Homo sapiens: one gene and its partners. The protein of the gene in region 2 purifies or fractionates together with the protein of the main gene of each other region. This does not show direct contact. Each region holds a gene or a part of one and is shown on either strand. Other genes may lie near its edges. The genes, in order: POMGNT2, SLC22A17, ATP13A1, EMC10, ARL6IP6, CYB5D2 and CLPTM1L.

What was found.
Region 1: the proteins of SLC22A17 (region 2) and POMGNT2 purify together in Homo sapiens (affinity purification with mass spectrometry; one large-scale study listed by BioGRID and IntAct). This does not show direct contact.
Region 3: the proteins of SLC22A17 (region 2) and ATP13A1 purify together in Homo sapiens (affinity purification with mass spectrometry; one large-scale study listed by BioGRID and IntAct). This does not show direct contact.
Region 4: the proteins of SLC22A17 (region 2) and EMC10 purify together in Homo sapiens (affinity purification with mass spectrometry; one large-scale study listed by BioGRID and IntAct). This does not show direct contact.
Region 5: the proteins of SLC22A17 (region 2) and ARL6IP6 purify together in Homo sapiens (affinity purification with mass spectrometry; one large-scale study listed by BioGRID and IntAct). This does not show direct contact.
Region 6: the proteins of SLC22A17 (region 2) and CYB5D2 purify together in Homo sapiens (affinity purification with mass spectrometry; one large-scale study listed by BioGRID and IntAct). This does not show direct contact.
Region 7: the proteins of SLC22A17 (region 2) and CLPTM1L purify together in Homo sapiens (affinity purification with mass spectrometry; one large-scale study listed by BioGRID and IntAct). This does not show direct contact.

The regions. Positions count from the first base shown.
Region 1 is NC_000003.12:43,078,434-43,082,633, reverse strand, and holds the end of POMGNT2 (protein O-linked-mannose beta-1,4-N-acetylglucosaminyltransferase 2), read left to right. Parts: intron 1-1,097; 5' UTR 1,098-1,202; coding exon 1,203-2,945; 3' UTR 2,946-3,400; downstream 3,401-4,200. UniProt on the Homo sapiens protein: O-linked mannose beta-1,4-N-acetylglucosaminyltransferase that transfers UDP-N-acetyl-D-glucosamine to the 4-position of the mannose to generate N-acetyl-D-glucosamine-beta-1,4-O-D-mannosylprotein.
Region 2 is NC_000014.9:23,345,242-23,350,165, reverse strand, and holds the end of SLC22A17 (solute carrier family 22 member 17), read left to right. Parts: intron 1-739; coding exon 740-894; intron 895-1,494; coding exon 1,495-1,660; intron 1,661-1,859; coding exon 1,860-2,005; intron 2,006-2,169; coding exon 2,170-2,275; intron 2,276-2,434; coding exon 2,435-2,652; coding exon of another isoform or gene 2,653-2,706; intron 2,707-2,953; coding exon 2,954-3,065; intron 3,066-3,229; coding exon 3,230-3,518; 3' UTR 3,519-3,848; downstream 3,849-4,924. UniProt on the Homo sapiens protein: Cell surface receptor for LCN2 (24p3) that plays a key role in iron homeostasis and transport.
Region 3 is NC_000019.10:19,653,356-19,657,709, reverse strand, and holds part of ATP13A1 (endoplasmic reticulum transmembrane helix translocase), read left to right. Parts: intron 1-301; coding exon 302-374; intron 375-560; coding exon 561-716; intron 717-793; coding exon 794-863; intron 864-943; coding exon 944-1,050; intron 1,051-1,526; coding exon 1,527-1,656; intron 1,657-1,776; coding exon 1,777-1,832; intron 1,833-2,055; coding exon 2,056-2,182; intron 2,183-2,256; coding exon 2,257-2,394; intron 2,395-2,470; coding exon 2,471-2,591; intron 2,592-3,009; coding exon 3,010-3,167; intron 3,168-3,565; coding exon 3,566-3,741; intron 3,742-3,815; coding exon 3,816-3,926; intron 3,927-4,354. UniProt on the Homo sapiens protein: Endoplasmic reticulum translocase required to remove mitochondrial transmembrane proteins mistargeted to the endoplasmic reticulum.
Region 4 is NC_000019.10:50,486,313-50,489,598, reverse strand, and holds part of EMC10 (ER membrane protein complex subunit 10 isoform 2 precursor), read right to left. Parts: 3' UTR 1-3,286. UniProt on the Homo sapiens protein: Part of the endoplasmic reticulum membrane protein complex (EMC) that enables the energy-independent insertion into endoplasmic reticulum membranes of newly synthesized membrane proteins.
Region 5 is NC_000002.12:152,756,302-152,760,293, forward strand, and holds part of ARL6IP6 (ADP-ribosylation factor-like protein 6-interacting protein 6), read left to right. Parts: intron 1-3,445; coding exon 3,446-3,539; 3' UTR 3,540-3,992.
Region 6 is NC_000017.11:4,152,939-4,156,292, reverse strand, and holds part of CYB5D2 (neuferricin isoform 1 precursor), read right to left. Parts: intron 1,620-3,354; coding exon 1,433-1,619; exon of another isoform or gene 1,370-1,432; intron 1,004-1,369; exon of another isoform or gene 869-1,003; intron 347-868; exon of another isoform or gene 100-346; intron 1-99. UniProt on the Homo sapiens protein: Heme-binding protein which promotes neuronal but not astrocyte differentiation.
Region 7 is NC_000005.10:1,341,985-1,346,803, reverse strand, and holds the start of CLPTM1L (lipid scramblase CLPTM1L), read left to right. Parts: upstream 1-1,704; 5' UTR 1,705-1,962; coding exon 1,963-2,124; intron 2,125-2,352; coding exon 2,353-2,453; intron 2,454-4,819. UniProt on the Homo sapiens protein: Scramblase that mediates the translocation of glucosaminylphosphatidylinositol (alpha-D-GlcN-(1-6)-(1,2-diacyl-sn-glycero-3-phospho)-1D-myo-inositol, GlcN-PI) across the endoplasmic reticulum (ER) membrane, from the cytosolic leaflet to the luminal leaflet of the ER membrane, where it participates in the biosynthesis of glycosylphosphatidylinositol (GPI).

The DNA of each region.
Region 1 (4,200 bases), on a different chromosome or scaffold from region 2:
AGGATGAGCTTCTTCAACTGTCTGAATAATCCTGGGTCCCAGAGCAGGCATGATACCCTTCACAATATCGCAAGAAGAGGGAGTAAATGCTTACCCCTAGCCAGGCCTCTCTGTCAGTGTGTGTATATGGGAGAGGGCATTTAAAACCCTATTGGTTTTTTTTGCCTCAGTACACAAAACATTTTTCAATGATGATACCCAGATACAATTATCTTACCACTGAGGGGACAAGTTTCTACCCTCCTCCTAAGGGATTCTGAAAGCCAGCAGGCATGATTTCTAAAGGAGCTTTAAGCAGGAGCAAAGCTTAGCTGACCATACGTGTGTGTGTCTCTCAAAGGCGGCATACTGGGGTCTTGGTGTGCAACCTGGGAACAGTGTTCACAGATCTCCAATGCCAGTTGTTCTCATTTAAGGAAAAGTCATTACCCAGAGTCCAGGAATGTCAGGCCCCTGCAAGGGATTTTCCTATGGCCTGTCTTTCCTATGGCCTCTCTTTGTTAGCTTTTGCTGCAGCAGTGCTTCATCACAAACAGCCCCAGAATTTCAGGGATGTTTAATCAGCTGTTGCTCAGCCCTGATGTCTATGTGTTGGCTGATCTTGGCTGCGTTTGGCTGATCGCACTGCTGCTCTTGGCTGGGCCCACTCAGTCATGAGGGATCAGCTGAACTAGAACAGGGCATGGCCGGAGCAGTTCTGCTTCATGCGTATCTCGCTCCTCTTGGGGCCAGCAAGTTAGCCTGAATACATTCTTCTTATGGCAGTGTCATAAAGAGGGCAAGGCCAGCCCAAACACTTTCCAAACCTTTGATTATGTTCTGTCTGCTGACATCTCACTGGCCAAAGCAAGTTAAATGGCTAAGCCCAAAGTCGGGTGTGGGGATGCACTTTCCAACATGGAGGCGATGGGGAGGGAGAGAATATTTTAAACAATGGTCTAATCTACCACGCCTACCAATGTGCACAATGGCTGCAAGGATCCAGTGCTGTAGCGGGCACACAGAGCCTAGCTACCGTGCCTGGCACATAGCAGGAGCTTGTAATGATGCCAGGAAGACTGCCAATTCCTTTTTCTTTTCCTTCTCTCCTCCTGCAGGCTTTCACCAGTTCTCAGGATGCCCATAGGGATGGGTGAAGCCTGCCTGGCCTGTGGTGCTTCCCAGTGGCCGTCATCTCATTAGGGCCCCACAGTGGCATTAGGATGCACCTCTCGGCGGTGTTCAACGCCCTCCTGGTGTCGGTGCTGGCAGCGGTCCTGTGGAAGCATGTGCGGCTGCGTGAGCATGCAGCCACACTGGAGGAGGAGCTGGCCCTCAGCCGACAGGCCACAGAGCCAGCCCCAGCACTGAGGATCGACTACCCGAAGGCACTGCAGATCCTGATGGAGGGCGGCACACACATGGTGTGCACGGGCCGCACGCACACAGACCGCATCTGCCGCTTCAAGTGGCTCTGCTACTCCAACGAGGCTGAGGAGTTCATCTTCTTCCATGGCAACACCTCTGTCATGCTGCCCAACCTGGGCTCCCGGCGCTTCCAGCCAGCCCTGCTCGACCTATCCACCGTGGAGGACCACAACACTCAGTACTTCAACTTCGTGGAGCTGCCTGCTGCTGCCCTGCGCTTCATGCCCAAGCCGGTGTTCGTGCCAGACGTGGCCCTCATCGCCAACCGCTTCAACCCCGACAACCTCATGCACGTCTTTCATGACGACCTGCTGCCACTCTTCTACACCCTGCGGCAGTTTCCCGGCCTGGCCCACGAGGCACGGCTCTTCTTCATGGAGGGCTGGGGCGAGGGTGCACACTTCGACCTCTACAAGCTGCTCAGCCCCAAGCAGCCTCTCCTGCGGGCACAGCTGAAGACCCTGGGCCGGCTGCTGTGCTTCTCCCATGCTTTTGTGGGCCTCTCCAAGATCACTACCTGGTACCAGTATGGCTTTGTGCAGCCCCAGGGCCCGAAGGCCAACATCCTCGTCTCAGGCAATGAGATCCGGCAGTTTGCACGGTTCATGACAGAAAAGCTGAACGTGAGCCACACAGGAGTCCCCCTAGGCGAGGAGTACATTCTGGTCTTTAGCCGAACCCAGAACAGACTCATTCTGAATGAGGCAGAGCTGCTGCTGGCACTGGCCCAGGAGTTCCAGATGAAGACAGTGACAGTGTCCCTGGAGGACCACACCTTTGCTGATGTCGTGCGGCTGGTCAGCAATGCCTCCATGCTGGTCAGCATGCATGGGGCCCAGCTGGTCACCACCCTCTTCCTGCCCCGTGGGGCAACTGTGGTAGAGCTCTTCCCATATGCTGTCAATCCCGACCACTACACTCCCTATAAGACGCTGGCCATGCTGCCTGGCATGGACCTCCAGTATGTAGCCTGGCGGAACATGATGCCAGAGAACACAGTCACACACCCTGAGCGGCCCTGGGATCAGGGGGGCATCACCCATCTGGACCGGGCTGAGCAAGCCCGTATCCTGCAAAGCCGTGAGGTCCCACGGCATCTCTGTTGCCGGAACCCCGAGTGGCTCTTCCGAATCTACCAGGACACCAAGGTGGACATCCCGTCCCTCATTCAAACCATACGGCGCGTGGTGAAGGGCCGGCCAGGACCACGGAAGCAGAAGTGGACAGTCGGCCTATATCCAGGCAAGGTGCGGGAGGCACGGTGCCAGGCGTCAGTGCATGGCGCCTCCGAGGCCCGCCTCACTGTCTCCTGGCAGATCCCATGGAACCTTAAATACCTGAAGGTGAGGGAGGTGAAGTACGAGGTGTGGCTGCAGGAGCAGGGGGAGAACACCTACGTGCCTTACATCCTGGCTCTGCAGAACCACACCTTCACTGAGAACATCAAGCCCTTCACCACCTACCTGGTGTGGGTCCGCTGCATCTTCAACAAGATCCTCCTGGGACCCTTTGCAGATGTGCTGGTGTGCAACACGTAGCGAGCAGGCCACAGCCTGGCCTCGGGAAGGTGGCTCCTGCAGTTCAGCGTCCCTGGGCCCATTAATCCCACTGTGGAGACTTCTGGGAACTATTTATTGAGCAGGCCTGTGCCTCCACATCATCTTGTTGTCTCTGGGGTGTGGTGTCACAGCACTCCTCTTTGCCCTAGAGATAAGGGACCTGACTTCCCCTTCTCCCATCCTGAACATTTGTACCCCTGGAGAAGTTCCTTAGCAGGGAGGAGGAAGAGGAGAGGAGGAAGCAAAGAATCACAAGGAACCTCTGGCTAGGTGATCCTGATGTTTCCTACTGAGTTTTTCTGGTATCCAGATTTCTGGAAACCGAGTAATCATGTACTGTTTGATTGGGTGGTTCATCTGCTTCCATCCCAGTGAAATTTACCTGTAGCCCAGTGAAGGGTGTGTTTGGAACATTCATTAAATGATTCTAAGCATCTTGGTCAAGTCTTCTTATTGGATGGGAGGAAGGGGAGCTGGTCGTCAAAACCCAGGTGCCCTTTAATCTTGATTGTTAGCTAGGGAGACGTGGCAATGGGAAAGCGCCCAGGATGGCAAAGTGAGCAAGCTGGTTGGATTTCATCTTGACTAGCTGGACTAATATCACAGTTCCACCTACATGGGATAAAAGCCTAGAAGTAGGTAGGAGAGGGCTGAGGGGAGGAAGAGCTGTATCCACCATGGGTTTTTTTTTGGGCTCAACTAGACATTAAGACTCGCAAGACCTGGACAGATCATACCTGGCATCAGAGTTTCTTAGAAGGATGGAGAGAGATGCTCAGCATGCCAGCAGGGCCATGTCAGCAGTTCCCTTCCACAGGAGCAGTCCTTACATCAGTACTCCTGAGGGCCACCTTGATTCAGAAGCCCATGCCCCATAGGAGTCAATGTGTTTTCAACAACCCACAATCAGAGTTCCCAGGGTCCCTCAAGGGACATGCCCAGTTATGAGTTTCTGCACTTAGGGAAGCCTAAGGCCATGGTTTCTTACCAGATGGTATAGCTTATTCTTTGTCCTTCCAGCCCAGGTGTAGCTTATCAATCAGAGGTCAAAAACTCCCATGGGCAGTTTGGCCTAATACTGTACCTGACATTCAGCTAACTGGCTTGTCTGGCTTCCATGGGAGCAGAGCTAGAAAGTTAGCCCAAGATAAAATCTGTCCTGAAGAAAGAGGAGTTTTGGCCTTTTATTGTTGGGGAGACCTGCTGCAGGTCTGACTCCTGTAAGGGGGAGAGG
Region 2 (4,924 bases):
CACCTGGCTAATTTTTGTATTTTTAGTAAGGATGGGGTTTCACCATATTTGTCAGGCTGGTCTTGAACTCCTGACCTCGTGATCTGCCAGCCTCGGCCTCCCAAAGTGCTGGGATTACAGGTGTGAGCCACTGCGCCCAGCCTGACCATTCTTAATGTATTAATAGACCAATGTCCCACCTCCATGGAACAATGGCCTCATCTCCAAAAATCAATTACTCAGTCCCCTAATATCATTGGCTTTACCTTCACTGACCAGTAGTATCCTCATGCACAAGTGGCCAATGGCCTCCCCTCCACAGGTTAATAGTTCCAACTCCGTATATCAATGAACCCCCCTCCCACATCTCCTCTGAACAGTCTGAGCAAGATAAGCTCCAGGCCCACTGACCATTAGCTCTGTTCCTAAGGATGAATGGTCCCAAATCCCCTAAGCAATATCCCATCCCCTCTGTTGAGTGATGTCACATCCATTGACAAGTGCCCTAATCTCTGACCAATAGCCCAAGAGTCAATGTTCCCACCTCTTAAAGAACCACAACCACACCCCAGTGCCCAGTAGCCAGGCATCACCCACCCATGGTCCCCATCCCTCCCCATCTTCTCAAGCCTCTGTCCAACTCTTGCTCCCAGAACTTCATTCTCATACCTCTAGCTCTGAAGTGTGCAGCTGGGTCTTACCCAGCAACTTTCCCACCACCAGAGAGTCTGGGTGACCAGAAGCCCTTCCCACTTTCTAGATTTGGCCGTCGCGGGATTGTGCTGCTGACCTTGGGGCTGGTGGGCCCCTGTGGAGTAGGAGGGGCTGCTGCAGGCTCCTCCACAGGCGTCATGGCCCTCCGATTCCTCTTGGGCTTTCTGCTTGCCGGTGTTGACCTGGGTGTCTACCTGATGCGTAAGTGGCACCCTCCCAGAATTCCCTCCCTTGGGTCTCATGCCTACCTGCCTGCATCGCCAGGCCATCCTCACTGCCCCCTAGGCCACATTTCAGCTGCCTAGAATCTCAGCTATCTTTCTGCCCAGGCCCCCTTGAAGAATCCAGGGCTCTTGCTTCTCTCTACACCTATCTCCCCCTCCCGACAATCTTTAAAGTCTTTGTCCTGGACTTACTGCTGCCAAGGAATAAGGTGCTATTCCCCTGATAGCAGTAAGTCCAGGGACAAGGATTGTCCCTAGCTGTGTGACCTTGGACAAGGGTTGATGTGAAGGTCAAATAAGAGGCCTGATGGGAAAGGGCCTATAAATTGGAAATGTTGAACACTCACCCAGGACTCTGGCCCTAGAGCCCTCCTAGGTTTGAGCAGGAGAGGAGAGAGGGCTGAACAGTCTCCCCAGTCCTTGCCACCCAGAGGTTAGCAAGGGAGGCAATGGCTGCAGCCTCCACTCTGGGTCTGACCTCTCTCTCTGTCCTCCTCCCTCCCTCTTTCTTCTTCTCTCTTATGCCTTCTTCCTCCCTGGCCTCCCTCTCCTCTCTCCACCCCTGCTGTATCTCCAGGCCTGGAGCTGTGCGACCCAACCCAGAGGCTTCGGGTGGCCCTGGCAGGGGAGTTGGTGGGGGTGGGAGGGCACTTCCTGTTCCTGGGCCTGGCCCTTGTCTCTAAGGATTGGCGATTCCTACAGCGAATGATCACCGCTCCCTGCATCCTCTTCCTGTTTTATGGGTCAGTATTACCCTTCACCTGTCGTCTGGCAATTCCCATCTCTGCCTCCAAACTAGCCCTAGCCCGGAGACCCCTCCTCTTCTCCAACTACCCCTGGTCCAGGCCTACCCCAGCCCCAGTCCCTCAGAGGTGCACATTTCCCACCCCTAGATCAGGAGAAGGGAGGCCTCACAGTATACCCCTTCCCCCCTGCCCCCAGCTGGCCTGGTTTGTTCCTGGAGTCCGCACGGTGGCTGATAGTGAAGCGGCAGATTGAGGAGGCTCAGTCTGTGCTGAGGATCCTGGCTGAGCGAAACCGGCCCCATGGGCAGATGCTGGGGGAGGAGGCCCAGGAGGCCCTGCAGGGTAAGAGACAGGGATCCCTGTGAGTGTTGCCTCACTTGCACACATGATGGTGCCCTCTGCATGGCTGTAGCTGTGCCACCTTCTCCCAGGGTCCCCACCACCCATGTGGGAGGATCCTGGGATCTCAGGGTTTTCTTCTGACAGCTCCTCTCTCTCTCCCAAAGACCTGGAGAATACCTGCCCTCTCCCTGCAACATCCTCCTTTTCCTTTGCTTCCCTCCTCAACTACCGCAACATCTGGAAAAATCTGCTTATCCTGGGCTTCACCAAGTGAGCCTGGGTGTCTGGGCTGAGGGCCAGGCCAGTAGCTGGAATGGGGGCTGGCTGGGTGGGAAGGCCCGGGGACCCCTGCGGAGGACCATCAGCACTGTAGAAGGCTGCGGGAGGGGATTCAGGCTCTGTTCGTTGCTTCCCCACCCCTTCTCACAGCTTCATTGCCCATGCCATTCGCCACTGCTACCAGCCTGTGGGAGGAGGAGGGAGCCCATCGGACTTCTACCTGTGCTCTCTGCTGGCCAGCGGCACCGCAGCCCTGGCCTGTGTCTTCCTGGGGGTCACCGTGGACCGATTTGGCCGCCGGGGCATCCTTCTTCTCTCCATGACCCTTACCGGCATTGCTTCCCTGGTCCTGCTGGGCCTGTGGGATTGTGAGCATCCTATCTTCCCCACAGTGTGGGCTCAACAAGGGAACCCCAACAGAGGTGCTTCAGACAGGCACAGCCATTTCTTCTGGCACAGGCCTCCCAAGACAAGCCCCAGACCCTGCCCAGCTCTTCCACGAGCCTCCACCTGGCCCCACAGCCCCATCTGCTCTCCCAGTCAATTACTGAATGCCCAGAGCCTGCCCAGCTAGAGCCATGGGAACAGAGAGCCAAGGGGATGACACCCGGGACTAGGCCAGCCTTGACCTCCCCACCTGCATTCATATCATCCCTCTTGCTTCTGCAGATCTGAACGAGGCTGCCATCACCACTTTCTCTGTCCTTGGGCTCTTCTCCTCCCAAGCTGCCGCCATCCTCAGCACCCTCCTTGCTGCTGAGGTCATCCCCACCACTGTCCGGTGAGAGCAGGGGTGCCCCCAGGGGCAGAGCCGGGCCCCCTCGCCTCCCGCTCCCCCACCCCACCCCTGAGGACAGGGCCTGCGGGCTGGAGGAGGGGGGCTGCGGGAGAAGGGCCCAGCAAGGCTACAGCTGTGGGCTGAGCTCCTCCTCTGTCTCCCCCCAGGGGCCGTGGCCTGGGCCTGATCATGGCTCTAGGGGCGCTTGGAGGACTGAGCGGCCCGGCCCAGCGCCTCCACATGGGCCATGGAGCCTTCCTGCAGCACGTGGTGCTGGCGGCCTGCGCCCTCCTCTGCATTCTCAGCATTATGCTGCTGCCGGAGACCAAGCGCAAGCTCCTGCCCGAGGTGCTCCGGGACGGGGAGCTGTGTCGCCGGCCTTCCCTGCTGCGGCAGCCACCCCCTACCCGCTGTGACCACGTCCCGCTGCTTGCCACCCCCAACCCTGCCCTCTGAGCGGCCTCTGAGTACCCTGGCGGGAGGCTGGCCCACACAGAAAGGTGGCAAGAAGATCGGGAAGACTGAGTAGGGAAGGCAGGGCTGCCCAGAAGTCTCAGAGGCACCTCACGCCAGCCATCGCGGAGAGCTCAGAGGGCCGTCCCCACCCTGCCTCCTCCCTGCTGCTTTGCATTCACTTCCTTGGCCAGAGTCAGGGGACAGGGAGAGAGCTCCACACTGTAACCACTGGGTCTGGGCTCCATCCTGCGCCCAAAGACATCCACCCAGACCTCATTATTTCTTGCTCTATCATTCTGTTTCAATAAAGACATTTGGAATAAACGAGCATATCATAGCCTGGACTTCCCTCCCTTCTGTTTGTCCTTCTATCTCTTGGGGGAAGGTTTTTCTCAGTGGAATGCACACCGATAACAAGCTCCCCTCTCCCTCCTTGTGCCCTGCCCCCAGTGGTGACTTACAGACAACTGTCACCACTTACTGACTGCTTGCACTGCTGCCAGAACTGGCCTAAGCACTTGACACACTTCGTATCATTTAATTTTTACAGCATTGCAAGGTAGGTGTTTGGATCAATTAGGGGTTGTTGTTGTTGTTGTTGTTGTTGTTTGTTGTTGTAAGCAATAAAAACTGGCTCTAATGAACTTAAGCAAAAAGGGAATTATTCGATTTGGTGGGGCAGGTTGTGGTGGGAGCTCACAGAATGAAGGAGAAGCAGAACTCGTCGTAAAATAACTAGTCAGGAGCGGAGAAGGCTCCTTGTCTGAGGAGCAAAAACCAGCAACATTTTTGTCAGGGCTTCTTCTAGATGAATGAGCTCCAGTGCAATTTAATCTTTGGGTTATCCCACTGAAGATTAATTTCCAGAGAGCATGTCACTGGCTAGCTAGAGTAACATGCCTCCCACACCCCTATTTCTCCCAACTGGGAATAGGTAAAGCAAAATTTGGGCACTGTTAGCAGAAGCGGGACTGGGTGTCACTCAGAAAAAAACAATGGAAGCTCAGTACAGCATTCTTATTCTCTTAAACAAGATGAGAAAACTTATGGTCAGAGAGACTCAGTAACTGGCCCAAGGTTACAAAGCTAATGAGTGGCAAAGCTGAGACATGATTAGATCCCAGAGAGCTCTTCATGGATGCATACTGTAGTCACCTTCCCAACTCTTCTAACTTTTGGGCACATTCCTTGGAAGGCAAGAGTGGGTTCTCTTGGCTCTCTGGAAGGTGGCAGCAGAAAACTGAGACTTCTACCTCAGTGCCAGGGCCTCCCTCTTAAACCACATCTGGTTTGGCTTTACCACTTTGGGCAAATCTCTTAGCTTCCAACTTCCTTTAAGACTTGCTATGAGGATTAAACAAGGTAATGTATCCTAAGTGTCTCTTAAACTACCCCCACTAGGTGTA
Region 3 (4,354 bases), on a different chromosome or scaffold from region 2:
TCTGACACCAGCCCCAGGCTGCCAGGAAGAGCATATTGCAGATTAAGGAGCTTCATCTGTTTTATGCAGAGCCGAGGGCTGTGGGCGGGCAGCATGTCTACCCCAGGCTCAGCCAGGATGAGGGAGAGCCACTGCCAAATGGATCCTCCTATCTGGAAGCTCGCCAGGGCTCCCGACGCCCACATATGGCTCTTGGTTTCTTGAGAGCGGCCTGCCATGCTCAGGTTGGAGGGGTCAGGGTGGAGACTCCATACCCCAGAGGCCTTGCCCTGGGAACAGGATGGGGCCTGGTCTCTTGCAGGGCCGAGATGGTGGTGCCTGACTTCTCGGAGCTTTTCAAGGAGAGAGCCACAGCCCCCTTCTTTGTATTTCAGGTAAAGCAGCAGCTCTGGCCCATCTCCCCATTTCCTCCCTTGGGGCTTTCCTAACCGGATCAAGCCTGCCCACCACTTCTAAACCTGGAAGCCTCTCCCCACCCTCACATATCAGATCCGGTGGGTGGAAGGGGCTCATGGGAACAGGGCGGGTAGGGCAAGGACAGACAGGCTGGTATCCCACAGGTGTTCTGTGTGGGGCTCTGGTGCCTGGATGAGTACTGGTACTACAGCGTCTTTACGCTATCCATGCTGGTGGCGTTCGAGGCCTCGCTGGTGCAGCAGCAGATGCGGAACATGTCGGAGATCCGGAAGATGGGCAACAAGCCCCACATGATCCAGGTGTGGCTGCCAGGGAGACCCAGGTTGGGGGTGCAGCACAGGTGCGGCTTCTGTGCTGACACCCATGCCCCGCCCAGGTCTACCGAAGCCGCAAGTGGAGGCCCATTGCCAGTGATGAGATCGTACCAGGGGACATCGTCTCCATCGGTGAGGCCGGGTTCCGCTCAGTCCCAGTGGGAGCCCCAGCCTCAGGGCCTCTGGCCAACCCTCCTGCCTCTGCCCTGCAGGCCGCTCCCCACAGGAGAACCTGGTGCCATGTGACGTGCTTCTGCTGCGAGGCCGCTGCATCGTAGACGAGGCCATGCTCACGGGGGAGTCCGTGCCACAGATGAAGGTACTTGGTGGAGGATGGGGATCCTCAAGCTGTTCAGGAGGAAACAGGCCAGGAGGTGGAGGCCCAGGGGGTGGCGGGGATCCCCCTCAGGCACAGGCGGAGGAGGCAGTGTGGGCACAGATGAGCTCTGTGGACTGGGGAGCCGGGTGGTGGGGGCGAGGAAGGAGGTGAGAGAGCCAAGGGCATCCAGGGTACATTGGTGCCCTGGGATGTCAGACCAAGGTGGGCTGGGAGCAGTCCAGAGGGGTGAGTCCCAGACGAGGCCAAGTGCAGGCCCCAGAGAGCAGGCACTGTGAGTGCAATGGGGAGAAGACAGGACGGGGTGAGGGTGAGGATCTGGGAGCTGGGTGGGATGTATTGGTCGGGTGGGGATCCCCCTGGCTCATTCCAGCCTCAAGGTCCAGCTGTCCAGGAACTCAGATGGAGAAGGAAGCAAGGTAGGCCTGGCCATCCAGATTCACGATCTTCCTCCCCAGGAGCCCATCGAAGACCTCAGCCCAGACCGGGTGCTGGACCTCCAGGCTGATTCCCGGCTGCACGTCATCTTCGGGGGCACCAAGGTGGTGCAGCACATCCCCCCACAGAAAGCCACCACGGGCCTGAAGCGTAGGTGCCTCATGGGCGTCTGGGGGTATCTGGGCTTCCACCCCCTTTGCCCGTCTGCTTGATCATGAGGGAGTCAGGACGAGGAGACAGGCATGACGGTGACTCTGCTTCTCTCCCCAGCGGTTGACAGCGGGTGCGTGGCCTACGTCCTGCGGACCGGATTCAACACATCCCAGGTGCGGGGCCAGGTCTGGGGAGGGCGGGCCCCAGGGCAGTTGGACAGCCAAGGTATCAGCCCTTTCCGACCCCAGAACATCTGCCCCACGGGCTGACTCTGGCAGCACGGCCCTGGACCTGGGCCAGGGTGCAGAGGCCACCCCAAGACCAGGCCCACGCTTCCAGGCCTGAGCTGCTGGAGGGAGTCCAGACAGCAGAAAGGCTGTTCCTCCATTCCTCCAGGGCAAGCTGCTGCGCACCATCCTCTTCGGGGTCAAGAGGGTGACTGCGAACAACCTGGAGACCTTCATCTTCATCCTCTTCCTCCTGGTGTTTGCCATCGCTGCAGCTGCCTATGTATGGATTGAAGGTAAGCGCCACGGCCTCTGTGGTCCCCTGCGCCCACCCTCCGAGGCTCCAGGTTGGCAGGCCCTGTCTCCACAGGTACCAAGGACCCCAGCCGGAACCGCTACAAGCTGTTTCTGGAGTGCACCCTGATCCTCACCTCGGTCGTGCCTCCTGAGCTGCCCATCGAGCTGTCCCTGGCCGTCAACACCTCCCTCATCGCCCTGGCCAAGCTCTGTGAGTGTGTCAAATGGGATGGGGTGCCGAGTGGGCTGGGGCCAAGCAGGACCCCTGACCTCACTCCCGCCCCTAGACATGTACTGCACAGAGCCCTTCCGGATCCCCTTTGCTGGCAAGGTCGAGGTGTGCTGCTTTGACAAGACGGGGACGTTGACCAGTGACAGCCTGGTGGTGCGCGGTGTGGCCGGGCTGAGGTAAGCATCAGGGGCCCTGCAGCAAAGGTCACCCAGATGGGGTTTCTGGGAAGTCGAGAGACAGGTGGCCCATCCACCCCAAGCCCTTGCAGTGAGGGCCCGTCAGAGGCCCTGCCTCGGGTTCATTTCCAGGGGCTCCCCACAAAGTCCTGGGTGTCAGCCATGGTAGCGGCACGGGGGCTCAGCTCAGGCCTGGAACATCCCACACCAGCCATGCACCACATGACCCCCAGGCACAATGCCTGGCTTCTGGGGGCATCTGTGAAGCAGGTGCAGGTCTCATAAAGACCCAGTTGGCGCCCAAGCCACCCCAGTGACAAGCACGGAATGAATGGCCTTGGGGGTCCTTCTGCTGGTGGGGATGCAGCTTCGCCCTACCCGCCTGCACTCTGTAACCAGCTGTTCCCCGACCTTGCAGAGACGGGAAGGAGGTGACCCCAGTGTCCAGCATCCCTGTAGAAACACACCGGGCCCTGGCCTCGTGCCACTCGCTCATGCAGCTGGACGACGGCACCCTCGTGGGTGACCCTCTAGAGAAGGCCATGCTGACGGCCGTGGACTGGACGCTGACCAAAGGTGAGGGGCTGGGGCCTCAGGCCCAGCAAGGGGGAGCCACTGGCTCTCACAGCCCTAGGCAGGTGGGCTGCACCCCTCAGAGCATCTTGGGGACAGGCAGGCCTACAGCTCTGATGCTCCCCGAGGTGGGTGGCCAGAGGCTCACTTTAGACCCAGGATAGGCCACGTCCTTGGGTGTCCCTCTGGGTTGGAATCTGCCCTGCCCTGGCCGAAGCCACAGTGCCAGGGTCCTCCAAGCCCAGGTCTTCCAGCTCTGGACCAACACCTGCTCTAGCCCAGAGCCCCGATCAGGCCCTGGGGGAGGCAGGAGGGAGGTGGGGGAGGCCGGGGTGAGAGGTAGGGGCTTGGCTGCCTCTTTGGAGCAAAGCCCCTCAGGACTCGTACTTATTTGTTTCCAGATGAGAAAGTATTCCCCCGAAGTATTAAAACTCAGGGGCTGAAAATTCACCAGCGCTTTCATTTTGCCAGTGCCCTGAAGCGAATGTCCGTGCTTGCCTCGTATGAGAAGCTGGGCTCCACCGACCTCTGCTACATCGCGGCCGTGAAGGGGGCCCCCGAAACTCTGCACTCCATGGTGAGCTGGCCCCAGCCTGGGGCAAGGGGTGGGGGCGCGGGGCAGCCCGTGACATCCCCCTGCATTCCCTGCAGTTCTCCCAGTGCCCGCCCGACTACCACCACATCCACACCGAGATCTCCCGGGAAGGAGCCCGCGTCCTGGCGCTGGGGTACAAGGAGCTGGGACACCTCACTCACCAGCAGGTACGGGCCCAGGCTCCCCCTGCCTTCACCATGTGCCTGGCCCGTCAGCTCCTCCCTGAGTCACCTCCTGTGTCCCACAGTGCCAGGTTGAATGGTTGTGATTTTGTCCTCCTTGCCCCGCCTCCAGCTTCTACCTTTGGAGACTCCAAATGGCACTCAGTCTGTCCACTGCTGTGGGGACCCACCCAGTCCTGGCTCACGCAGAGCACACGCAGGGCTTACCTGCCCCAGTCCTGGTGTGTCCCTAGCTCTACTCTTTTGCCCTGGTCTTGGGCAGGGCTAGGTGGCATCCTCAGCCCTCTCACCCATCCATCCTCCACAAAGCCCACCCTCCGCCTCCACCACCGGCACATCTGCCGCTTGGCTTCTTCCTGGGCTCTCGTTCTTTCTGCTTGCACCCTACAGCTGCGGATCCTTCCAGAATTTAG
Region 4 (3,286 bases), on a different chromosome or scaffold from region 2:
GGACCCGCCGGGTCTGGCAGCCTGTCCCCGCAGTAGCCTGGGCTGTGCCCACGACACCCCCGCCGCCCAGCTACCCGGCCCTCTCCGTGCCTCACACTGGCTCCTAACCTGCTTCACGTTCCTGCTTCCTGCCCCGGTCTCTGGGCTGACGCTGTCTTAGGGGCGCCCCCTCCTCAGCTGGAGGGGCATGGTCCTCTGTCGCTACTTCCAATCCTCTCTCCCTTCTTTCTCTCCATATTGCTCTTCCACACTCATGCACCTCTTCTTTCCTTTCTGCTTTTTTTCTCGCTCACTCACCCGCTGGAGTGCAGTAGTGCAGCCTCCACCTCCCAGGCTCCAGTGATCCTCCTGCCTTAGCCTCTCAAAGTGCTGGGACCACAGGTGCGAGGCACCATGCCCGGCCTGTTCTTTTCTCTCTGCCCTTTTTTGTATTTTTTCCTTTCTCCTTTCCTTCTTCCCTAATGTCTGTCTCTCTCCTTCCCTTCTTAACTTCCCTTCTCTCTCCAGCCCTCTCCTACCCTCCTTTTCTCTTTTCCCCTATCTCCAGCCCTCTCCTACCCTCCTTCCCTCCCTCTTTCTCTCTCCCCCTCCGCACCGCTCCATCTCCCTCTCGGTCCAGTCCGCTGTCTGTGCCCCCTCTCTGTTCCGTTTTCTCTCCCACCCTTCTTCCCTCTCCCATTTCTTCTCTTTTCCCCTCTTCCTGTTCTCTTTTTCTCGCTGTCCTCTCTGTGGCCACCCTCCTTTTTCTCACTTCTGCTCTCCCTGTCCGGCTCTTCTCTCTCCTCTCTCCCTTCTAGCAGATTCTCTGGCTGTTTCCTCTCCTCTCCCTCTGTGCTCCTCCCTCCTCCTCTCTCCTCCCAGCCACTATCCTCTCTCTTCACCCTCTTCTCTTTCTGTCTCATGGTCTCCTCCTAGCTCTTTTCCTTCCCAGTTCCTAGCTCTCTCCTTTCTCTTTCCTCTTCTCTGGCTGGAGCTCCCCGCTCCTCCATCCCTCCCTCTCCCGGGGCCCCCTCTCCCCCACCCTCTTCTCCCCCAACACCCTCTCCCCCACCCACTTCTCCCTAGGACGCTCCCTCCTTCACCCGTTTCTCTGCTTCCCTCTTCTCCGAGCTCACCAGCCATGGCACCCACCCTCTCCCTCTCTTCCTTCCTGTCCCTTTTTTCACCCCCTCGTCTTTCTTTCCTCTTCTGTTTTTTCTTCTCTTTCCACTTCTGACCCCCTACACTGTTTCCTTCTTTCTCCCTCTTCCTCTCTCCCCTCCTGCTCTGGCCATCTTTTCTTTTTTTTTTTTTTTTTTTTTTTGAGACGGAGTCTCGCTCTGTCGCCCAGGCTGGAGTGCAGTGGCGCAATCTCGGCTCACTGCAAGCTCCGCCTCCAGGGTTCACGCCATTCTCCTGCCTCAGCCTCCCGAGTAGCTGGGACTACAGGCGCCTGCCACCATGCCCTGCTAATTTTTTTTTTGTATTTTTAGTAGAGACAGGGTTTCACCGTGTTAGCCAGGACGGTCTCGATCTCCTCACCTCGTGATCTGCCTGCCTTGGCCTCCCAAAGTGCTGGGATTACAGGCGTGAGCCACCGTGCCCGGCTCTTTCCTCCTGCTTTTTTCCTACACTCTCTCCTCCCTCCTCTCCTCCCTCTTTCTCCTGTTTGATTTCCACCTCTTTTCTCTCCTCTCTCCTCTGAATCTGCCTCTTCCTCTTCTCACCTCCCTCTTCCTTCCCTGTCTCTCCCCCTTGGGTCTCTCTTCCTTCCCTCTCTCTGGTTTCTCTGTCTCTGCCCTGTCCTTTCCTTTCCCTCCTCTCTGGACCTGTCTCCTCTCCTGGCTCTCTCTCCTTCAAGCTCTCACTCCCACTGGCCTCCCTCCCGGGAGCCCCGTCTCCTCCGTCTCCAGGTGGCCCCTGCATCCCTGCCTGGTGGGCCTTTGCCTCCCTCTCCTGTTCCTGCCTTGCCTGCTCCCAGGTTTCCAGGTCCTGACCAGGAGGCAGGAGTCCATACCGAGGCCCAAACAGGCTAGCCCTGAGCAGGGCCCCCAAGCCTGAGGCCCAGGAGTGGACAGACCTTTGTGACACCCATTCTCTCTTCCTTTTCCATCTGTCCGGAACTCTGGACACTGCCTGGAGGAATCAGGCCTGCCGTAGGCCCAGGAAGGCGGAAACAAAGACGACGCTCAGAGACAGGAAGCAACTTGCCTAAAGATACACAGCACGTAAGGAGCAGGGACAGGACTGGGTGGGGCCCCTGGGGTTGGCCAGGAGTGGGCTCCTGAATCTGCCGATCCCTGGCCTCCTATCTGAGCTCAGTGAGCAGCGGATGACGCCTTTCTGCTCCATTCCGCTCCCTTCCCAACTCTTCCTCTGACAACATGAAGCACCTCAGCACTGAGGGGACCTCACCTGAATTCCATTTCAGAAATGAGAAAATTGGTGCCCAATGTTTCTGAAGACCAGCAACTGCTAAGACAGAGACTTCGAGGGAACCCGACCTTGCCTGAAGGACCAACAGCGCCCCCTGCAGGACACTTCCCTCCATTGAGAGAAGCCACAGGCGCCGGCCTGAGGCATTCTGAGTGCGTGGAATCCTCTATTACCACCTCCTGGCAAAGAACGGAGCTGCAACCCAGCTATATGAGACACCGAGAATGATCTCAACAAAAAGGAACAGTGACCAGAATGCCTGGGGGAGGAACAGGGGATACTGGGTGGAAGGAGGGGAGAGGGAGAAGTTGTAATATTTTGTAAAAATGAACATTTTTACTCCTAATCAATATACAAACATCATGCTCAGCAAACTTCTTGGTATGAAACTTCTGAACTTCACACATTTTCAAGTCATTCTATGGGTGGGTGGATTGGCTCCCATGGAAATGCAACTGGGACTGCACATGGGAAACAAAGGAAAATGGAATTTGGTTCACACAAACCTGTTTGGGAGATTGCATTTCCAGGAAATGGGCCAAATTGAGTTTGTTTCCTTTGTAACAACATTGTTGTGCCTTGCTGACTGGAAGGTGGGTACAAATAAAGGAGGATGGACTGACAGCTGAAGAGGCACCAGTAATTAGCCCCTAATCCTTACCAGGGAGTCTCTCTGATGGGTTAAAGAAGCCTACAGAGGCCAGGGGCGGTGGCTCACACATGTAATCCCAGCACTTTAGGAGACTAAGGTGGATCGCTTGAGGTCAGGAGTTCAAGACCAGCCTGGCCAACATGGTGAAACCCGGTCTCTACTAAAAATACAAAAATTGGCTGGGTGTGGTGGCACACGGTTGTAATCCCAGCTACTCAG
Region 5 (3,992 bases), on a different chromosome or scaffold from region 2:
TATAACACAAAAAATACACATTAATTTGAGATGAATTACAGATTTAAATATCAAAAGAAGAAAAGTAAAACCTCATTAAGATACAGAATATCTTCATAACCTTGGAGTAGTCAAAGATTTAATGAAAAAGCCACCAAAAAAGCACTAGCCATTTTTTAAAATATTAACTGGACTTTATTCAAATTAAGAACTTCTGTTCATCAAAAGATCTTATTAAGAGAGTAAAAAAAGACACACCATAATAAACATTATTTACAACACGTATCTTTAACAAAAGATTTGTATCTAGAATACGTAAAGAACTCTATAAACCAATAGAAAAAAATGAGAAAAAGTTTTGAACACAAACATCAAAAAAGAGGCTTTCTGAATGGTCAGTAAGTACATTAATCATCAGAAAAATAAATATTAAAACCACTACAACATACTCTGCAGACCTACTAAAATGGTTAAAATTTATAACACTGATAATACCAAGTGTTCATGGTGATGTGGAACAACTTAAACTCATACGTTGATAGTGGAAGTGTAAATTGGTACAACTATTTTTCATACTTTCTACTAAAGCCTAATGTATATCTACCTTGTAACTCAGCAGTTCTACTCCTAGGATCTATCCAAGAGAAATAAGTGCAGATTCCCACCACCCACCGAAGACGTGTTCATAGTACCTGTATGTATAGGAGCCCCAAACTGGAAACACCCATCAGTAGTAAAATGGGTAAATACATTTTGCTATATACTGCAGTAGAAAAGAACAAACTAATACTACATACAACATGGATGAATCTCACAAAGACAGTACTGAGCAAAAGAAGGCAGACGCAGAAAAATATTTATTGTATGATGCCATGTAGATGTAGTTTCAAGAGCAAGTGAAACTAATCTTGGTGACAGCCCTCAGTATTGCAGTTACCTCAAGATCTGCAGGAGGTAAGTTGAATATTTAAAAGGGATCTTTTTGCAGTGCCAGAAATGTTCTCTATCTTTATGTGGTTGGTGAGTATATGAGAGTCTACCACAGTAAAAATGCATTGAACTGTATATAAATGTTAGACATTTGCATTTTACTGGTATGCTTTAATTAAAAAAGTGAAATGCATGTATAGATATAGATTGGATGAGGTAGACATTGTATTTAATTATCATTTATTGAAGATATTAAACTCATTAATTGAAGATAATATTTTCATTTTACTTGAGTCAATTTTAAATAAGTCCTCTATAGAGTTTTGACAAAGGAGAACCATAATTCCTTCAGTCTTTGTTAACAGACTTTAGAGATCACAAATGAGAGTCACAAGAGAGAAAGCCTGCAGGGATTGTCTGTCTTCCTCCAAAGAGGAAAATCATGGTGAATATTTTGAAAAGCTTTAAATTAAAGCAAGTGATTCTTCAAAGATTTAAGTCCTTTACCTAGCAGTAGTCTGTGACAATTGCTACAGTGTTCCCAGTGGGAATATGGTACATTTGAGATGACAAAGACTAGGAACCACTACTCCCGAGCATTTTTTCATTGCCATTAAAATGCATTGCTTTGCCTGCTTAGTAAGGAAGTCACTGAACATTTGAGCATGTACATCTCAGTAAAATTCAATTCTACCAACATTGTAGTTGTCGGCTTAGTAAACTGAACTTTAAAGGTTTTTCTATTTTTGTGGGATTGTGAGGATCACAAACTACTAAAACAGAACAATTAACTCTGGAAACCTTTTGATGATTAACTTTATTGGGTGAGTACAGTCATCCCCCTTTATCTGTGAAGGACTGGTTCCAGGATTCCACACAGGTATCAACATCTGAGGATACTTGAAGTCTCATTCAAAAATGGCTTAGTATTTGCATATAACCTAAGCATATCCTCTCATATACTTTAAAACATCTCCACATTATTTATAATATTATACCTAATACAATGTAAATGTTATATAAATAGTTGTTTTATTGTTCAGGGATTGACAAGGGAAAAAAGTGTATACATGTTCTGTACGGATGCATTTTTTTTTTCAAAATATATTCTACCTGCTTGGTTCATTTCGCAGATGTGGAACCCACTGATATGGAAGACCGAACTGTATTAATTTAAAAGTTTTTTGGATCGTCACTAAATATTTTATGATGAATGATAATGCTGATTGTTCAACTTTAGGTTTCTGTTCACTAGTCATCAACATATATTTGAGGAATTTCTTTTTTAAAGGGACAAAGCATTATACCTATTTTACGATGTAGATAGGTAATATAGGTAGGTAGATTAACCCTTAATAACACATGAGAAGCATCTTTGACTAGCCCTAGTTGGGTAAAGAAAGGTTGAGTCGAAAGTAAATAATAACTCCCTTGGAACAGAGCAGGGAACCATCAGGAAGCATCAGGGTCTATGTAGCTTCAGATGAATGCAAAGGGCTCTTCTTTGAAGAATGTACCTTCTTCAATCTCTGCCACAGATATTGTGCGACTGGAATCACTATGAGGTGCTCTTCAAGTGTTAGTTCACAGCTAAGTGCTTCTCTGGCTTTGGCTACTCCTTAGGAAAGGAGGAGAGGATATGGGTATTTATGACCGTCTCAGTCCAGGGCCCTTACTGCTTTTGTCTTTTGGCTTTTACTTCTGCTAGTGCACCTTCCTGTGTGTCCTCAATTTGTTTTGCTCCAGAAAGGAGAGTATTCTGTTCTGCCTTCTAGAGAGTCTCAGTTGGATACTACCTTCTTTTCTTTTTAATATGTCTGATTCTTACTAGGATAAGCAAATAGTATTATTGCAATACAGTTAGTGGGAAAAACTGTTGTAAGATTGTTACAAGATAAAGGAAACAAATGTCAGGGAATATTCATGCACATAAGAGTTATTAAACTAGTTGGCACTCCTAGCAATCATAAAAGAGATGTGTCTTTGCTGATTCTTAAGAACTCATTGAAAACCACTTCAATTAAGTAACCTATTAGAATGATAGCTGAAATATCTATGAAAGACATAGGGAGTTCCTTCATATAACCTAAAAGTGGTGCAAACAGAACAAATACTTGAAATAATATGTATTTTAAGTCAAATCAAAGTAAGAACAGACAGCATGGAAACACACCGCTAATTAATGAAAGAACTGTTTGTAAAATAACAAAACTTATACCTTAGAATTAGGTTATGGCTACACACAGTGACAATGAAACACAGTAAAGAAATAATAGGGATGAAACTCAGCATTACTCATCAGTAATGATTTGAAACAACTGTAATTGTTAACCAGTACAGTTTTGACACAGGACTTAATAAGATCTATCCACTATTTATCCTGCAGATGTCCAATATTCTTTAAGTTTTGTATTCATATGTGAACATTTGGGAAATACACTCCAAGGTCATAAGTATTTTCGATGAAAACTTTTGGTGTCTTTGTTATACCACGTTACATTTTTCTTTTTTGATTTGTGTTTTTCTTTTTTTCTAGGAAACTGACTGGACATTCTTTCCACATGGGCTATAGCATGGCGATTTTGAATGGCATCGTAGCTGCTCTTACTGTAGCATGGTGCCTCATGTAAACCCACACTGGAGCGATATTGTTGGCAAAACTTAATCATGATTGTTTTGTAATAACAAGAAGGAGCATCACTGTCTACTCAGAAGACTGAGAAACCTGCTGTTCATTATGTAGTTCAGATATTTATCACAATCATCCTCATTATGGAAGACCTTTTAAAGCATTGTTTTAGAATGTCTGAGTATTAAGATACAGATTAATTGGGAATATCTGAGTATTAAGTACTTTCTTCAGAGTATAAGATGTTTACCTCATCTTTTTACTTTTGTGTGTGTAGTTCTTTCAAGTTGTAGGAAACATTTTAATGGAATTTAAACTCAAAAACTTGAATACAGGACAATGCTTGCCTTTTCATGTATGTACTACATTTTTTGCTAAGAAATACTGATATTTCTGTTTAGTTGAGCTAGAAATACTTCTTATTTATACATTTAGGAAAGCAAATAATGCCTAC
Region 6 (3,354 bases), on a different chromosome or scaffold from region 2:
GACACGGAGGATTCAGCTGTGGCCCAACAACCTGAGCACCCTCCTATCTTGGGCAGGGGCCTTGCCCACCTCAGGGCACTGGGCTCAGTCTCTGATGGACTCAGAGGCCTTGCAAGAAAGAAACTGAGGTTCTTGGAACTGACGCCTCAGACAGCTTCCGGTGCCTGCTGTCAGAGAAACTGCCCCCAGCGAGAAAACATCCTACTTCTAGCTTACCAAGAACAAGGCTGTCACCCAAACGCCTCCCTCTTCTACCCAGCCTCCATCCCATCATTGGGGATCTGTACTCCACACCTTGTCCCTGCCTTCGGCACTTGTTCCTCTCAGTCTAATGGGACACACACAGGTGAACAGAAGACAACAAACTGAGCTGAGGCACAGGGATAGGGCCCCGCAGTTCACTAGGGTGGCCCTGGAAGGGTTTTGTGGGGAAGGCAGAGCCTGAACTACTCAGTCATGAAAGCAAGAAGAGGTTCAGGAGACACAGGGGAAGGCTGTGGGGAGGGAAAAGGAGGCAGGGCCCAAGGAAGCAAAGTCAAGCATCTGAACGCACGCAGGCCTCCTGGAGTCTCCTCCTCCTGGAGTCTCAGAGACCAGTGCTCTCTGAGGCTACCTGCATTCAGGCCTGTGTCACAGGAAGGCCCACGCCTATCTTAGCTTCTCTCCATAAAGTGAGCAGGCCAGGTTCTCACAGTCCCCTCTTTCTTGAGATGACACTGGAGAAGCTGTCTCTTCAAAGCTAGCGGCCAGGAAAGAAGGAGCTTTCCTTCCTGCTACCTTTGCCCTTGCTCCGCTCATTTAAGGCTGAGAACTCCGAATTTGCAGTGGTTTTTTTTGTTTGTTACTGTTTTTTTGTTATGTTGCCCAGGCTGGACTCCAACTCCTGAGCTCAAGCGACCTGCCTGCCTCAGTCTCCCAAGTAGCCAGGACCACAGGTGTGGCCCACAAGCCACCATGCCCGCCTCACCTGTTTTTAAGACAGCAGTTGAAGCCATCACTGCAGGTACCCTCCCCACCTCCTCGTCCCTCTCCTATAGATAGGCATGATTTGTGCTGTCAAACAGGAAACCAAAGCCCGTGGGTGGCTGAGCAGGCCAAAGAAAGCAAGAAATCCTGCTTGTGCCTTCTCATTCCCGGGTCAAGGTTGTGTCAGCAGGATCTTTGGAGAATTCGGAAAAAATAAAAAGATGCCCAGGCCTCAAGTCCAAGTCTCAACCCATTCAGTTGAGTGGAGTGAGGTCTGACCATCCGTAATTTCGGCAATTCCCCAGAAGATCTAATATGCAGCCAAAGTTGAGAATTATTATCAGTATTTTGAAAAAGCTCCCCAGGGTTAACAATCAATTCCTGAATTCACTGAATACTGCAGGCAGGATGGCCTAGGAGTTGGATTTGGGACAGGCAGAAAGGAGAAGAAGGGGAGCCTGCTTACCTCTTCTGGGAGCACCAGAGCCGGCTGCCCCTGGCTGAGCTCCACTCCGCGTTGCACGGCGGGAATGTCTGCTTCTCTTGCAGCTGTAGTTTGTTGGCCTCCAAGCCTCTGGTGATCGCAGCTTCTACCTGGGTCAGTGCCGGGGTGGGCAGCCCATCCTCTCCGTAGAACCGTCCTGTCACCCTCCCTGTGATGACAGGAAGGCAGATGTGAGTGAGAGTGAATACTCAGCTGCTGAGGCAGGTGTGGGAAGGCACAAGTTCCCAGGGTTTCTGACTTCAGTCCTGCTGGTGCGCGTTTAATAAGAACTTCTACTGCAGGCACTCCTGGTGCCTTGCACACCAACCTCTTAGCACCCTACAAGCCCCCACACAGCTGCATCCCTCTTCTAGCTGCAGAGCCCTTCAGCACAGAAACCATCAAACCTCTCTCACTTCCAGACAAGGCTTCCCTGAGGGCACAGCCATGTGTGATTCATTTCTCCATGCTTCCATGTGCTTGGAGCACACGCTGGGTATTCAATTAATGTTTGATGAATGAATGGCTTATTGGCTAACATTTTTTAAATGTTTATTATAATAGAGATGGGGTCTCACTCTGTTGACCAGGCTAGTCTTGAACTTCTGGGCTCAAGCAATCCTCCCACCTCAGCTTGTTGAGTAGATGGGGGTACAGGTGTAAGTCACACTGTGCCCGGCTTTAAAATGCCTGTCAGAATTTGTAAAAGTCTAAGCTATGGCAGCAGCCAGCAAGTGGTCCACCAGCCTATAGGCCAGAAGGAAAAACAGGTCAGTTCTCTCAGCCCAGGGTCCTAATGTAGCCCAGTCCTGAGGTGCAAATGCCCTTCAGAGGCAGCACCTGCCACAAGGCAAGAGAAGCAGAAAGGAAGCACTTGAGGGAGGTGCGACCGAAGAGGGAGCAACCCCTAAGAACTAGCTTTACCTTCGATTCTAGTGGCGCGTATGTTCAGCGCATCTGAGATTCAGCTCGTCTCCCAAGTCCAACGCCCTCCCTGACTTTCCCAAATCCGTGTTGCCTCTAGCCTGTGACCTGCATTAGGAGCCTGACTCCTCCTCCTCTACATCCACATCATACTCCCTTCCTTGCTGTCTGATCGGATCCATCAGAAAACCTCGTCAGTCCTACCTCTGAACAGATCCTGATTCTGTTCACTCCTTTCCATTCCCACTGCCATCACCCTCCTCCAAACCACGGACTGTGGCAGTGGCCTCCTAACTGCTCTCTGGTCAGCTCATGCCCTCCTAGAGTTCTCTGTCCATAAAACAACTAGGGGATCTTTTAAAAACATGAATCCTACCATGGCTCTCCGATGCCTGATTAAAACCCTTCAATGGCTTCTTAAAGCAGACAAAAATGCAAATTTCTTATCAAGGCCTCTAAGGCCCTGTAACCATTTAACTGATTTGCTTCTTCAGCCTCTTACAAGCTACGTCCCCCCTCGTTCACGGGGGGCTCCAGCACACTGGCTTCCTTTCTGTGTCTTGGCTGTGCTTCCCCACTCCCCACCTTCGCACCGCTCTTCCCTGACCCAGCACACTCTCCTCAGGTCTCGGTGTGGCTGCCTCCCACTCACCTGCCGGTCTCAGCTTAACGGTCATTTTCTCCAAGAAGCCACTCCTGAGCATGTGCTCTAAAGGAGCCAAAGCTCCCAAACGTATTACATCACAGTTTGATGCATGGTCCTATGTGGAGTTGTTCAATCTGTTTACTTGTCTATGATGGCTCTCTCTACTAGTGAGGCGCAGTACTCAGAACAGCTTAGCGCCAGGCGCAGCGGCTCACACCTGTAATCCCAGCACTTTGGGAGGCTGAGGCGGGCAGATCACTTGAGGTCAGGGGTTCGAGACCAGCCAGGCCAACATGGTGAAACCCTGTCTCTACTAAAAATACAAAAATTTGCT
Region 7 (4,819 bases), on a different chromosome or scaffold from region 2:
CTTCCGTTGGTCACTGTGGATGACACTAGGGGTGGACACTGACCAAGGAGGCACCAACCTGATTCCAGCTCCTAGAGCTGGCCAGGTGCCTGACAGGAAAATGAGGCATCTGAAGAACACGGAGAGATGGGGGTAGGGTGGTAGGGAGGGAGGGAGATGAAGCCACACCCCAGAGCTCCTGGGTTTGCAGCTCCTTCCCGAGGCCTGGCTAGGTCCCTGCCTCGGTCCCTGCCTCTGGATGCCGTGAGACAATCCACCCTGGAGAGCCTACCAGTCCCCTTATGTTTGACAGCTGGAGTTGGAATTTGCCTCCCGCAGACCACAGGTCTACAGCCTTCATTCACGTGTCGCACAGACTGTGGCAGGACCAGCACCCGCTGCTGGTGTGGGACGCCTGGCCCTGTAGGGGACCCCAAGAGTGGCTGGAGAGCAGGGCGTGATGCCTCTTGGGCCACCCTGCAAAGGGCTCACGAGCCTCCTGAGGAGGATGCATTTGATCAGGGTAACAGGAGTCAGCAGAGGGCTTTCCAAGGACAGGTTTGCCAAGAAGCGAGAACAGACTGAGGGGGGAACGATAGAGGCACTGGGTGTAGTCAGACACCACTGCAATGGTAGCCGAAAACCGCGCCGTGAGAAGACTCTGTGGGGAGGGTAACTAGGTGCATGAGAGTGAGAGGAGCGAAAAAAGCCTCGGATGGCTCCGAAGCTCCTGGCCCAGCTTCCAGGGGTTGGTGGCCCAGGACCGCCCCTGCACGCGGCCTCGGGTGCCTGCTCCAGGCAGACCTGCTTCTCTGGCCCATTCTCGGCACCAATCACTGTCCCATCCGCCCGTCAGCCAAGTCCTCTGAGTTCTTCCCGGAGCCCAGCACCCTGATGCAATTGTCCCTGCTCTGAAAACCCTCAGCAATCTATTGGGTCTTCAGTAGCATCTACTCTTTCTAGAAATGTCGAACAAGGTTTTTCGATTGTGCTGCACGTGTGGCAGACACAGAAACGGAAACGACCTTCCAGAGAACTGGCCAAAGGACGGGAGCTGCTCCAGTAACTGAAGGGCACAGACTGAGCGCTTCTGATGGAGTCGGGGAGGTCGCCGGCCCATCCACCGGCTGCCCGAGGGCCTCCCACTGACCTCCCCCGGCCGCCCTCCGAGGGGCCTCTGCTGACCTCGCCGTGCTGGGCACGCTCGGCTTTAGCGGGAAGCTGGGGGTCAGGTTCAAGGCTGTGAGGAGCCACTTCAGCCCGGGAATCTGAATTTTTTCTTCAAAAGCGCCTGTCCCCACAATGGGTTTGTACTGGGGAAAAAACCCACACACGGGATGAGGTGCCCGGCTTCTGTGAGGGTTCTGAGCACTTCGTTTTTCTTCCCTTTAGATTCTGACAACTGTGGACTAAAAGGGTTGCAGGCCCAGTGCCGGAATTCCAGTATCACCTTCCACCAGGCTCCTCACACGTCGACATGGCCCCCACTTGGTGGTCTGGCAGGCGTCGGCGGTTGGGGACGGCGCCCCGGGGACCCCGCGGCCCTAGCCTTCCCCGGCGCCCCGCGAACGCCCTCCGCGGCCCCAGCAGCTGAGCGCCTGGGTCCCTGAGAGGCACCCCAGGAGGGCGGCGCGGGCGGGTAACGTCACACACGCGCCGCATCCTGGATGCGCGTGCGCGGCAGCGGCCGAGACTCCGTTTCCCAGGGAGCCGCGCGGCGCGTCCACTTCCGGCAGGCGGCGGGGCCCGGAAGCGGCGCGCGGGGCCGGCGAATCCCGCGGCGCCAGGTGGGAGCGGGGCCGGAGCATGCGGGGCGGCCGGCGGTCTGCGGCGCGCGGCGCATTCGTTCCCCCGCGGCGGTGGCGGTGGCGCGCGGCGGCTCTCCAGTGAGCGGCGGAGCCCGGAGCGGCGGGCTGGGCGCCGGGCGGGCGGGGCTCGCGGCTGAGAGGCGGGCGGGCCGGGGGCGCCGGGCGCGGGGCCGCCATGTGGAGCGGCCGCAGCTCCTTCACCAGCTTGGTGGTGGGCGTGTTCGTGGTCTACGTGGTGCACACCTGCTGGGTCATGTACGGCATCGTCTACACCCGCCCGTGCTCCGGCGACGCCAACTGCATCCAGCCCTACCTGGCGCGGCGGCCCAAGCTGCAGGTGAGCGTCCGCGGGGCCGGGGGCCGGGCGGGTTGGGGTGGGGGCCTCTCCTCCAGGCCCCAGACGTCGCCTTCCCGTCCCAGTTCGGAGCTGTGGCCGCGCGAGTCGAGATGGAACCTTTCCTGGTTCCCCAGCGGCCAGGTCTTCCGCCCTCCAGCTGGCCGTGGGATTTGAGTGCGTCCTGCCAGGGCCTGGCCGAGCTGACTCTCGACGCCCCCTCCTTTCCAGCTGAGCGTGTACACCACGACGAGGTCCCACCTGGGTGCTGAGAACAACATCGACCTGGTCTTGAATGTGGAAGACTTTGATGTGGAGTCCAAATTTGAAAGGTATGGGCGTAGGACAAAATGCCAGTGAAAGGGAAAACATTACTCATGTTCAGATTGTTTAAAAGTTAGCTTTCTGTACATAACATGTTTATTTTAGAGAACTAGTCTTACCGAATGTCTTGAAGTGGTAGAATATCCTAACTGGAGGCCTATGCGTGGCCTGTAAACATTCAGCCTGGAAGGTGACAGGTGATGAATGTCGTTTAAGAAGTAGTTCTCAGCAGAGTGTGATGGCAGTGGGATGTCCTGGACGGGGAGGCTCCGAAGGAGCAGGGGCCACGCTTGGTGAACCAGTGGAGAGCAGACAACTCTGCAGTTTCACTACCGGGGACCAACTTGTCTTTTCCTGGTGGAAGTAGTTCGCTTAAGTTACTTGTGAGGGAAAAGAGATGAGGATAGAGGAAGCAATTTTGTAGAAAATCATAAATAAGTGACATGTGACGTTAGAATAGATCAATGTCCAAATATGTAGAGTATCTTAAAAATTACATCTGACATGGCCTAATTTTTTTTAATTGAATAAGTATACTTTTAAATATGATTTGCTTCTCACAAGTCAACCATTTCCCTTCATTGCCTGGGAGGTATCTGAGGAGAGAATAATGAAAGTTTGAGACTCATGCTGGACTCCACGCCCTCTAGGCAGCCAGTCCCTGGGGGTAGCTGGAGGCGCTGGCAAGCCGGTTTCTGCCTGGCCTCTTTAGGCCTGTGACCTCAAGCCAGTTCCTGCCCTCTCTCTGCCTCCATGAAGGGGAGGCCAGAAGTGCTGGTGACCAAGCTGCCCGCTCGGTTGTAGCTGCCCACACCTTTCAAAAATGCTCAGGATTCATCTGCACTGGGTTTAATTTCCCAGACATGAATACTGCCTCTTCCGTGCCGGGCCGTGTACCAGTTACCAAGGACAGCTAGTGAGGTTTTCCATTTGACCTGGCACAGTGTCAGCCTGGAGGAAGTGGGGAGAATGAGCACTCTTAACACAGCTCCGCCTCAAGTGTCTCCAAGTGCACATTCCACCAGAAATACACAGCCCTGCACCCTCTGCCTGAAGAGAGACACTTAAGATGTCCTGGTGGAGACATACTCTTTCCTGGGTAGTGAGGAGCCATAGATGCCTTTGTGTTTTTCATTACAACTTTGGCCGTAAGATTTTTTTTTTTTTTTGAGATAGAGTCTTGCTCTGTTGCCAGGCTGGAGTGCAGTGGCGTGATCTCTGCTCACTGCAACCTCCGGTTCCCGGGTTCAAGGGATTCTCCTGCCTTAGCCTCCAAAGTAGCTGAGACTACAGGCACCCGCCACCACGCCTGGCTAATTTTTTTATTTTTAGTAGAGACAGGGTTTCACCATGTTGGCTGGGCTGGTCTGAAACTCCTGACCTCGTGATCTGCCCGGCTCGGCCTCCCAAGGTGCTGGGATTACAGGCGTGAGCCGCCGCACCCGGCCAACCGTAAGATTTTTAAGGAGAGGCCGGGCACAGTGACTCATGCCTATAATCCCAGCAGTTTGGGAGGCCAAGGCGGGAGGATCACTTGAGCCCAGCAGTTCAAGACCAGCCTAGGCAATGTGACAAAACCCCATCTCTACAACAGTTTTCAAAGTTAGCCAGGCATGGTGGCACGCCCACCTGTAGTCCCAGCTACTCGGGAGACTGAGGCGGGAGGTCACTTGAGCTCAGGAGGTTGAGGATGCAGTGAGCTGTGATTGCACCCCTACACTTTCAGCCTGGTGACAGCGAGACCTTGTCTCAAAAAAGAGACTTTTAAAGAGGAAGAAGAACTCATGTAACCGTAAACAGGTGGAATGCGAGGTTTTTCCATGGGGCTGTAGTATGGACGTCGGGCCCTGGTGTGCGGGTGAAGAGCCAGGCACCTGGTCCGAGGCCTACAGTTGTAGCAGCTCGCCGGGCCTTTCCTCAGCTCGTGCTGGATGCCACACAGTCAGGACTGACAGCCTTGAAAGTCAGTCCTTTGTGGCTGATCATCTTTTTATCCTTAAAACTACAACACCCAAAAAAACTACCCACATTAAATTTCTGAGGTTCCAGTAGTGTGGGCCGAGGCACCTGGAGCCCTCGTGGCTGCTGCCCTTCCCTTCTGTCGCTTCGGAGTTGGGTGATTCAGTGTGTGTGGTCAGCTGGTACCCTGGCCAGGCCCAGAAGCTGCTTTCCATCTGGCTGCTTCAGCCTTGTGGCCTCAGGTGGGTTATTGACCTCTCAGCCTCCTGAGATGGAGGCAGGAAGTGCGGGCCGTTTTGCTTTCGGCTGTAGGCGCCCACACCTGTGCCGAGTTCTCAGGACGCGCACGCGTGCGCGTGCACACACACACACACACACACACACACACACGACTCGTAAAGCCCTGGGCAGGTGG